Regions from separate parts of the Homo sapiens genome. Here region 1 is linked to region 2. Evidence: fine-mapped expression QTL. A gene starts in region 2. The other region holds a variant in brackets. All regions are shown on one strand. Distances are between the middles of the regions.

Region 1 (5,516 bases), 26 kb after region 2:
AGAAAACAAACATAATGAAACCAATCCCTTCCAGGCCAGCATGGGAATAAGGGGGTGCAGGGAGGGGGTACACTCTTGTTTTTATTTATTATGTATTTATTTATTTTTGAGACAGAGACTCACTCTGTCACCCAGGCTGGAGTGCAGTGGCACAATCTCAGCTCACTACAACCTCTGTCTCCCAGGTTCAAGTGATTTTCGTGCCTCAGCTTCCCGAGTAGCTGAGATTACAGGTGTCTGCCACCACGCCCGGCTAATTTTTTGTATTTTTTAGTAGAGACGGGGTTTCGCCATGTTGGCCAGGCTGGTCTCAAACTCCTGACCTCAAATGATCCACCCACCTCGGCCACCTAAAGTTATAGGATTACAGGCATGAGCCACCAAGCCCAGCCTTGTGTTTTTTGTTTGATTGTTTTTTGAGACTGAATCTTGCTCTGTCACCCAGGCTGGAGTGCAGTGGTGCCACCTCGGCTCACTGTGACCTCCGCCTCCTGGGTTCAAGCGATTCTCCTGCCTCAGGCTCTGGAGTAACTGGGATTACAGTCACCCACCACTATGCCTGCCTAGTTTTTGTATTTTTAGTAGAGACAGAGATTCGCCATGTTGGCCATGCTAGTCTCAAACTCCTGACCTCAGGTTACCCGCCCTCCATGGCCTCCCAAAGTGCTAGGATTACAGGCGTGAACGCCATGCCCGACCTACTTCGTGGTTTTGACTTGCGTGCCCTCTCATTCCACCCAGGGAAGCTTTCCGCTGGGCCCTCTTCAGCATGCAGGCCACAGGCCACGTACTGCTTGGCACCTCCTGTTACCTGCAGCAGCTCCTCGATGCTACGGAGGAAGGGCAGCCCCCCAAGGGCAAGGCCTCATCCCTTATCCCGACCTGTCTGAAGATACTGCAGTGAAAGCCCAAGTCCTTGGAAGCTTTCCCCAGTGAAGGACTGACTGGGGGCCTCACGCTTAACTGGTAGTGCCCACAAGCCTGGCAGCTGTAGAGCCGCGAACCTCCCCACACCTCCCTCACCGCGCAGGACCCTGAGTGAGGAGGAGGAGCTGGAAACCTGGGGTGGGTTGGCCAAAGGAGAACCTCAAGCTCCTGGCCTGATCCAGCTCCTTCCTGCCCAAGGCAGCTTAGCCCATCCAGACTGGTCCTGAAGTCTGTCCCTCCATTGGCATGAAGTCTGCCCCTTAGCAATCTGGCCTCGCAGGCTGTACTTTCATGGTGCTCTCTACCTTCTGGCCCCCATCCCGGAACATTCCTGAGTGAATTCGCAAGCGCACTAGCATGTGATATTAGGGAGTTTGCAATAAATTATTGAGGCTGATGTATCTTCTTTGCCTGTGTTCTTTGGGGTGGGGTTTTATCTGGAAGGTTGGAGGGGGCTAAAGGAAGAGACGAATCTATTGTCAAAGTATTCTCTTTAATGTAGGATTACAGCTAATGGCACTTTTTCTACCAAAGAAGAAAAAAAAAAACAGCTGGGCACAGTGACACGTGCCTGCAGTCCCAGATACTCAGCAAGCTGGGGTGGAAGCATCCCTTGAGACCAGGAGTTCAAGGCCAGGCTGGAGCACAATAGCAAGACCCCAGGCTCCTTAAAAAACAAAATTGCAGTTGATTTTGAAACTAAAGTCAGCTGAATTTGAGGCTTGAGCTGACCATGTAATTGATACCATAAGTAACAATTTCCTAATTAAATTCACCTATCAGAGGAGCTTCAATTGAGCAGGTGGGATTAAGTCACTCTTCTAATTTCTCAGTGTCCCATTTTATAATAACCGTTTAAGTGGTTAGGTGAAAAAGTACTACTCAAGCTGTAAGGCATTTCTCCATCAATGCCCATCCTAACTTGCCAGACAGCTTATCTTTCATGTTCAGGACTTTCAACCTCGGGATTTCAAAGTGGGCTCATAGGTAGCCCCAAAGAGTAGGAGCTTCTCATCAGTGTGAGCTGGCATTTTCCAGTATTGGACAACTCAAGACAAGCATGAAAGGCTGAACTTAGGCTGGGCATGGTGGCTCACGCCGTAATCCCAGCACTTTGGGAGGCCGAGCCAGGCAGATTACCTGAGGTCAGGAGTTCAAGACCAGCCTGACCAACATGGTGAAACCCGGTTTCTATTAAAAACAAAAAAATTAGCTGGCCAGCATGGCAGGCGCCTGTACTCCCAGCTGTTTGGGAGGCTGAGGCAGTAGAATCGCTTGAACCTGGGAGGCAGAGGTTGTGGTAAGCCAAGATCGTGCCACTGCACTACAGCCTGGGTGACAGAGCGAGACTCCATCTCAAAAAAAAAAAAAAAAGGCTGAACTTGTAGAACTTGTAG[G/A]TGACTGTTTTATTTAGTCTGTGACTGAAAGATTTAAAAACTTGGCCAGGTGCAGTGGCTCATGCCGGATATCCCGGCACTTTGGGAGGCTGAGGCAGGAGTATCGCTTGAGGCCAGGAGTTCAAGAGCAGCCTGGGCAACATAGCCAGACCCTGTCTCTACACTAGATAATAAAAAAAAATTAGCAGAGCATGGTGGCTGTAGTCCCAGCTACTCAGGAGCCTGAGGCAGGAGGTTCACTGGAGCCCAGTAGGTCGCGGCTGCAGTGAGCTATGATTGTGCCACTGCACTCCAGCCTGGGCAACAGAGTGAGAGCCTGTCTCTGGGAAAAAAAAAAAAGAGGATTCAAAAACTCTATCACAGCCAGCCGCAGTGGCTCACGCCTGTAATCCCAGCGCTTTGGGAGGCCAAGGCGGGTGGATCACAAGGTCAGGCATTTGAGAGCAGCCTGGCCAACATGGCCAAATCCCGTCTCTACTAAAAGTACAAAATATTGGCCGGGCATGGTGGTGGGCACCTGTAATCTCAGCTACTCGGGGGGCTGAGGCAGGAGAATTGCTTGAACCTGGGAGGTGCAGGTTGCAGTGAGCCGAGATTGTGCCATTGCACTCTAGCCTGGACGACAGAGTGAGACTCCGTCTCAAAAAAGAAACAAACAAACAAAAAACGAAAAACAAAACAAAACCTATTGTTTCACTACTCTTACTATAAAGCCTATTTGGATGTAGTAAATACTAAGGCAAAGGCCTATATTACCAAAGATGGTCTGGGAGCTATTTATGGCAGCGGACCCAAACCCTGCAGCCTATGGGCAAAGCGGCTGAAGCTCGCTGAAGAGGGCCTGCTATTCCGGGCTCTCCTGCTCTTTTGCAGTTATGGCTGGAGGCTGGCCCGGTGCCAGGCTGGCTCCATGGGGTGGGCTGTCTGGCAGGGAGGCCTGATGTTTGTATTAGCACAGAAGCTATCCCAGTCCACCCTTGATGAAGCTGTGGCGGGGCCTACCTGCTCCTTCCGTAAAGTGCTCAGTAACAGAGTTGGAGTGGGGGTGGGAGGCTCGGTATTTGTCCCAAGCTTCCCTCCTCCTGAGATCCGGAGTTTCACAAGTGAATCTTGAGCAACTGCCCATGGTCTCTTGGCATTGAGCCCAGGGAAAACAAGGTTCTTTCTTTTCTTCCAGGAGCTCGAGGCTAATGGAGTCAAAGCAGCTGTGGTCAGTGAACAGAAAAGGCAGCCTCTGATGAGGCTTGGGGGCTGGGGAGGGAAGATTCCAAACAGCAAAGGAGTTTGAGCCTCTGTAGGGCCTGGCGGTCCTAGTGGGGGAACGGCCTTTCCTGGGGCCCCCCGCACAGCCAGGAGCAGCTGTCGTCAAGGTGGACTGTGTCCCAGCCCCTCCAGCTCAGCCTTTTCATCTGTTCAAGCTGGTGCTCGGGAGTGCACAGGATGCCTTTCAGAAGAATTCTAAATCCCGGGGGCCTGTGATGCCACAGTCACATGTCTGAGCCCAAAACAAGAGAACCACTTGTGTTTTTGCCACTCTTCTTACCAGCGATGCCCATATTTGTGCATATAATTTTTTTTTTTTTGAGACGCAGTCTCACTCTGTCGCCTGGGCTGGAGTGCAGTAGTGTGATCTCGGCTCACTGCAAGCTCCGCCTCCCGGGTTCATGCCATTCTCCTGCCTCAGCCTCCCAAGTAGCTGGGACTACAGGCACCCGCCACCACGCCCAGCTAATTTTTTGTATTTTTAGTAGAGACGGGGTTTCACCGTGTTAGCCAGGATGGTGTCGATCTCCTGACCTCGTGATCCGCCGGCCTCGGCCTCCCAAAGTGCTGGGATTACAGGCGCAAGCCACCGCGCCCGACCCATATATGTATTTTTTGTGGGGTGGGGGAAATACTGATTCTGAGATGTGTGCTGCCTGGAATCCCATGGCCACCGTGACCAGGGTTGTAGGGGGCCCAGGGGCCCAGGGTCTTTGATGTCAGCCGCATCTCCTGGCCAGCATTGACCCAGGGGTCCCACGTCAGCTGGTTTAGTGGGGGCCGCTCCCTGGGGTCGAGGCTGAGGAATTGTTTTACTAGTGTTTCCAGTGGAAACGAAGAAATAGGTGGAGAGTCATACTGTCACATAGCCTGAGGCGGGAAGGGACCACGGGTGGGGCTGGATGTTCTTTCAGCCTCCCTGGCAGAGATCACTGACAGAGTGGTCAGCTTGGCCAAGCTTCTGCGGTGGATGGCTCTGATGTAGGGGAGGGAGGCAATCCCCAGAGCAGGAATGGGTTCCCAGGGGCCCCTATCCTTGCAGGGGAGGCGCTGGCCATCCTCCCCTCAGAGCCTTCTTCACTGCAGCCCGTAGGGGGGCGAGTGACCTGGAGGATCCGTGCCCCAGGGGCAAACCTCTGGGCTCTGGCTTCAGCCCCACCCGGGAAAACATTCACAGCTCCTCCGGAGAAGCGCCCTGCTGCAGGAAGACTCTAGGGCAGGGCCCAGCTGCGAGGCTACTGGCCTGTTGGTGACAGTACCCCAGGCTTCAAACTCTCTGGGCCTGTTGGCAATTCCCTTCCCTGGGTACAACAGATTCCCACCCGGCCCGCCCTTCTGCTCGCCCCACGGGGAAGTGGCCCAGGAGTGGAGGCGTGGACAGGCATCCCGATGGCTCAGAGTCGGGGTCAGCCTGGACAGCACGGCCTCTGGGGGTCAGACGGGGAGCGAGGGGAAGGTGCCAGGCTCCAGGACAGCCCTTGACAGGCGGTCTGACGGCCTCGGGTCTCCTCTTTTCTGGCCTCGGGGACGGGGCCAGGCGGCGGTGAGCCGCGGGGGGCGGGGCTTTAATGGCCATCGGCCCCACCCAGCCTGCGCTGGGAAGCGGAGACAGGGACGCCCCTGCTCCAGCAGAGCCTGACCCCTGCGGGCTGCCGGGGCCGCCTCCCTCTAGGCGCTGCTGCGCCCACACGGACAGGCGCCCTCTGCGGGTCCCGCGGCTCCCGGCCCCATTCAGCGCCTCCAGATGCCTCACCCGAGCCCTCTCCGCTGGGTCCCCGGGGCCTCAAAGCGCCGACCAAGCCGGGGAGTCACTCCCCTGAGCCACCCGATCTTCCCATGGATCCTTTGGATCCCTGGGTTTTGGAGTTTGTCCTTCCTAAGTGCCGCCTGCCTGGACGCGACTGCCCCAGGACCACAGCTGACCCAGTG
Region 2 (5,000 bases):
CTTCTCCTGTGTGCTGGTGAACCAAGAGTCTAGGAGCTTCTTGCTGTAGTACAACTGCCAGGCATGCACTTGCACTGCCAACACCAACACCAGGTACATGATGGAAACGGCAGAAAAACCAAAGAGGAAACGGTAGGCCTTGCCATGGCGGTAGAGCTGCTGTGCAGCAGGGAACATCTCCATGCTGCCATAAATGAGTGGAGCGATGGAAAAGAGTCCCATGCTGATCATGGAGAGCACCAGGTAGCTAATGTTGTTGCGGGGAAAGGAGAGAAGGCCCAAGAGAGAGGGCAAAATGCTCAGCAAATACGGGTATTCCCACTGATAGGGCATGGCCACCTGATCATGTGACAAGAGCCTCAGGTGTCCCACGCTCATCTTAGCAACCAGCAGCAGCCATATGACCAGATGTACGTAGATCAGCTTCTTGATTTCATACTTGAGAGTCACACTGTGGGGCAGAGCAGAGGGAGAAGTATCTTTCAAATTTTTCTTACCACCAACTATATGCCAGACAACTGTACTGGACACTGGGATACAAATTTGAATAAAACAGCCTAGAAGCCGGACACAAAGAACAGAGGAGGAAAAAGTAATTAGAAAATGAAGTGAAAAAGTTCTAGTAAATATATGTTCCCAGATATATGGGATCACAGGAAGGAGGAATCAACTCTGCCTGGCATGGAATGTCAGAGATGGCTATCTAGAGGCAGGTGATATCTGAACTAGGCTCAGGAATGAGTGAAGATGGGCATCCCATGCAGGAGCATGCAGACAAAAAGGCCCAAGTATTTGTGTTCCAGGAAAGCAAGTGGTTATGTGTGGCAGGAACATATTGTTAGGGGGAGAGGGGTAGTGGGATATGAATCACAAAGACTATGAGAGTTAAAAGTAGAAGAGGCTGGGCTCACAACTCTAATCCAAGCACTTTGGTAGGCTGAAGCAGGAGGACTGCTTGAGCCCAGGAGTTCGAGACCAGCCTGGCAACAAAATGAGACCCCATCTCCATAAAAAAAAAAAACAACAACAATACTACTAATAAAAAGGCAGGGCTGGGCGCGGTGGCTCACGCCTGTAATCCCAGCACTTTGGGAGGCCGAGGCGGGCAGATCACGAGGTCAGGAGATCGAGACCATCCTGGCTGACACGGTGAAACCCTGTCTCTACTAAAAATACAAAAAAATTAGCAGCACGTGGTGGCGGGCGCCTGTAGTCCCAGCTACTCGGGAGGCTGAGGCTGAGAATGGCGTGAACCCGGGAGGCGGAGCTTACAAGTGAGCTGAGATCGCGCCACTGCACTCCAGCCTGGGCGACAGACCGTGACTCCGTCTCAAAAATAAATAAATAAATTAATAATAATAATAAAGGCAGAAGGGTAGCTCAGAGCTGTGTTTAGCAAGAGGACGCTGACTGCACCATAGGATTAAAGTCTGGCGGGAGAAGGTATTGGCAGAGAGGAAACGTACTCAGGCCGCCCATACTTCTCCAGCTAGATTTTTTCATCCAAAAGAAGTACATACTTATCTTATTCTTCTAATTCTCTCACGTCCCAAACGTATCCTCCTCATATCCCTAAAGGCAATGTTTCTACTCTGGGCTGGCATGAAAACACCTGCTTAAGTTGTGAGGGCCCTTTCAGCCGGGGCCTAGAGATGTGAAACAAATGAGAGTTCAAAGAGCTTGTCATTCTTTAAAACTCTGGAGAGAGAGATGTGAAGAACATTCTGGGAGAGATCAATGGATTTAAGGAAGTAAAAATTTTAAAATTTTTATTTAAAAATATTTATTGTAGAAAATGTGGAAAGGTTGGAAAAAAAAAACAGTCATCTCTAGACTTCAAGCTCCATGAAGGCAGGGAACAGTTTTTTTTTTCTTTAATAAAATTGTTTATTGAAGGTATAACATGTATACAAAGACCACGTCTGCTTTTGCTCACTATTATAACCTAGTGTCTAGCAGTGTATGATGTTTGGAAGCTCAGTATTTGTCGAACTAGTAATTGAATGTAGAAATACCCCTTACGTGGGAGTGTTTATAAAATTCATTTTAGGCAAGGCGTCCTTAGGAAAGGCTGCCTTTTACTGTCTATATCCCCCCAAACGGCCCAAAATATAACACCTACCATATATTACGTGGTAGGCCTTATGCTACTTTCTTTACACGAATTACTGATTAATCTTTCACCAAAACCTAAAAGGCAGATTATTCTCTCCCTCTACAGATGAGGAAGCTGAGGCTCAAATTAGAAATTCGGTTTCGAAGGTGATACAGCGGGGCCAGCATCGACGTGACTCGGGAGCCCACGCAGGGCGGGAGCCCACGCGGGGCTGGATCCCCTCAAGGCACCGGGCGGAACAAGGGGTGGAGCTCGCGGGGGCCACGGGGCTTTCCAGGATGGGGGACAGGCCCGAAGCCGTCACGGGAGGAGGGGACTTGGCAGGTGAGCGGGGGCTGGCTGGGGAGCAAGACCCTGAGGCCGGGCCGGCGTCGCTCCCCAAGCCCCGCAGGCTCCAGCGGGGGAGAAAGCCTCCGTGCTCCTCGCCTCACTTCATACCTCATCTGGTAGTGCATGGCGACGCGCTCCCGGTGCTGAAAGTCGCTGCCGTCGGTGCCGGCCGCTCGCGGGCCTGCTCGAGACGCCATTGTGCCTGCCCAGAACCCCCGAACCCCTCACGCGGACCTGGTACCGCAACGACACCGCCAAGCGGCCCACTGACCCTATTTGCGCCCCCGCAGCCGCGCGGCTCCGTGAAGAGAACTTCCGGCCCCTCTGTCTCTGGAGGACCGACTCTATGGTCACTCCTCTCCGCGCAGGCGCCCTCGTTCCCTCTCGCCCCCGCCCCGCCCAGCCCCGCCTCTTGTGGAGCGCGCAGGAAATTAATCCCCAGCCTCTTTTGCTGGCGCCCAGAGGCCGCTTGAACACTTTTACTTTCTTAAGCTGTAATATCAGTTAGGATACTTCTGTCCACACTTTACAGAGGGGGAAACTGATATATTCTATGACTTTCCCTGGAGCACACATCATTCACACAGCCTCACACCTTTAATCCCAGCACTTTGGGAGGCCGAGGTGGGTGGATCACTTGATGTCAGGAGTTCAAGACCAGCCTGGGCAACATGGTGAAATCCCGTCTCTACTAAAAATACAAAAATTAGCCAGGTGTGGTGGGTTCCTGTGACCCCAGCTACTTGGGTGGCTGAGGCAGGAGAATCGCTTGAACCAGGGAGGCAGAGGTTGCAGTAAGTCGAGATTGTGCCAATGCACTCCAGCCTGGGGGACAGAGTGCAGAGTGAGACTTTGTCTCAAAATAAGTTTCTCACATTTAATTATTGCAAAGAGAAACAGGGAATCTCTCAGTGAGGAAATCTGGCTTGTCTCCCTTAAACATATAGTCAGTTAATTTGATCAATAATGAGATAAACTGATATCTTGTGCCTCTTTTAATAGACTGAGGACACAGCATCACTTCTATGATGTTTCTGCCAAAAATACCTAACTGAATCTAATCATGAAGAAATGACATAAATCCAGACGGAGGGACAGTCTAGAAGAGAGCTGGACTGTACTCTTCAAAAATGTCAAGGCCATGAAAGAAAAATTATTTCCAAATAAACTTTATCTGTAGAGACAAAGTAGAATGACCATTGCCAGAAGCTCGAGGGGTGGACAGAGAATGGGGAGCTAGTGTTTAATGGGTACAGAGCTTCAGTTCGGGAAGATGAAAAAAGTTCTGGAGATGGATGGTGGTACTGATTGCACAACTATATGTGTGTGCTTAATGCCACGGAAACTGTACACTTAAAAATGATTAACATAGTAAGTTTTATGTTATGTGCATTTTACCACAACAAAATACTAAGCGAAACTTTAAAGAAAGAAGTTATATTATCCGAATAAAGAAAAAAAGAAAGAAAAAAGCATGTATAGTGAGCATCTTCCATGCACCAGGATGCTCTGCTATGACCTGGGGACGCAGAAATAAACATGGTCCATTTCCCCTGAGGGATCCCAGCCCAGTCGGGGGAAGAACTTGTACCCATGAAGCTAAGAAATTCAAGAAAACACAGGAGGCTGAGGGAGGAAAAATGAGGCCTCTCTCCCTGACCTGGAGGGTTAGGAAAGTCTCTCTGGAGTGGCAGCAATTGAGCTGAGGTCTGAAGCCTGAGTGGGAATTGGCTAAAGAGGTGGGGAGCGGAAGAGCTTTTCAGGCAGAGGGAACAGCATGTGTGAAGGCCCCAAATCCAGAGAGCACTTGGCTCTTCAAAGAACTGAGAAACTTAAGAGTGACTGGAGCATTTGGAGGGTTCAGTAAAGAGTTAAGTCTTTATCCCAGGGGGTTTGGGGAACCACTAAAAGGTTTAACCAGGAAAATGACACAGTTTTGCATTTTTAAAAGATAGGTCTAGGTGGGGGCACAGTGCCTCAAGCCTGTAATCTCAGCACTTTGGGAGGCCAAGGCAGGAGATCAGCCTGGGCAACATAGTGAGACTCCCGTCTCTACAAAAATAAAAAATAAAATAATATTAACTGGCATGGTGGTGCGTGCCTGTAGTCCAGGCTACTCGGGAGGATGAGGTGGGAGAATCATTTGAGACCAGGAGTTCAAGGTTACAGTGAGCCATGATTATGCCACTGCATTCCATTCTGGGCAACAGAGTAAGACACTGTCTGTAAATAAATAAATAAAGATAGATCTAGTTGCTGTGTAGAGAATGGCTTGCAGGGGCCAAGGGTGAAGCAGAGGAATCACTTGAAGGCTACTGCAGTAATTCAGGCAATCCTAGGGGTGGCTTGGGCTAGGAGGTGGCAATGGACAGAGAGGAACAGATTTGAGTTCCTTGGGATTTAACATCTGTAGGTGGGTAACAAGAGCACATATGACCAGCAAGGGGCTCACACTAGGAAGGGAGTCTGTGTGGCTGGGATCTGAGAAAGGCAAGCAAGAAATCAGCAACATTGGCCGGGCACGGCTCACACCTGTAATCCCAGCACTTTGGGA

What was found. PIP is the estimated chance that this variant, and not a neighbour inherited with it, causes the effect.
Region 1: its variant is the best candidate, but not a certain one, in a credible set for the expression of JAGN1 in subcutaneous fat (GTEx, PIP 0.84).

What each region holds. Positions count from the first base shown.
Region 1 is chr3:9,862,522-9,868,037 of GRCh38, reverse strand. CIDEC (cell death inducing DFFA like effector c) reads left to right here. Exons shown (of 7, transcript NM_001321142.2): 7 at 742-1,324. The coding sequence ends at 904. Among named protein-coding and RNA genes, the nearest start is that of CIDEC, 15 kb to the left of the region's middle. RefSeq lists silencers at 3,659-3,953, 5,059-5,353. The variant G/A (reference allele first, on the strand shown) is at 2,325.
Region 2 is chr3:9,888,366-9,893,365 of GRCh38, reverse strand. JAGN1 (jagunal vesicle mediated transporter 1) reads right to left here and starts at 2,756. Exons shown (of 2, transcript NM_032492.4): 1 at 2,555-2,756; 2 at 1-451. The coding sequence starts at 2,643.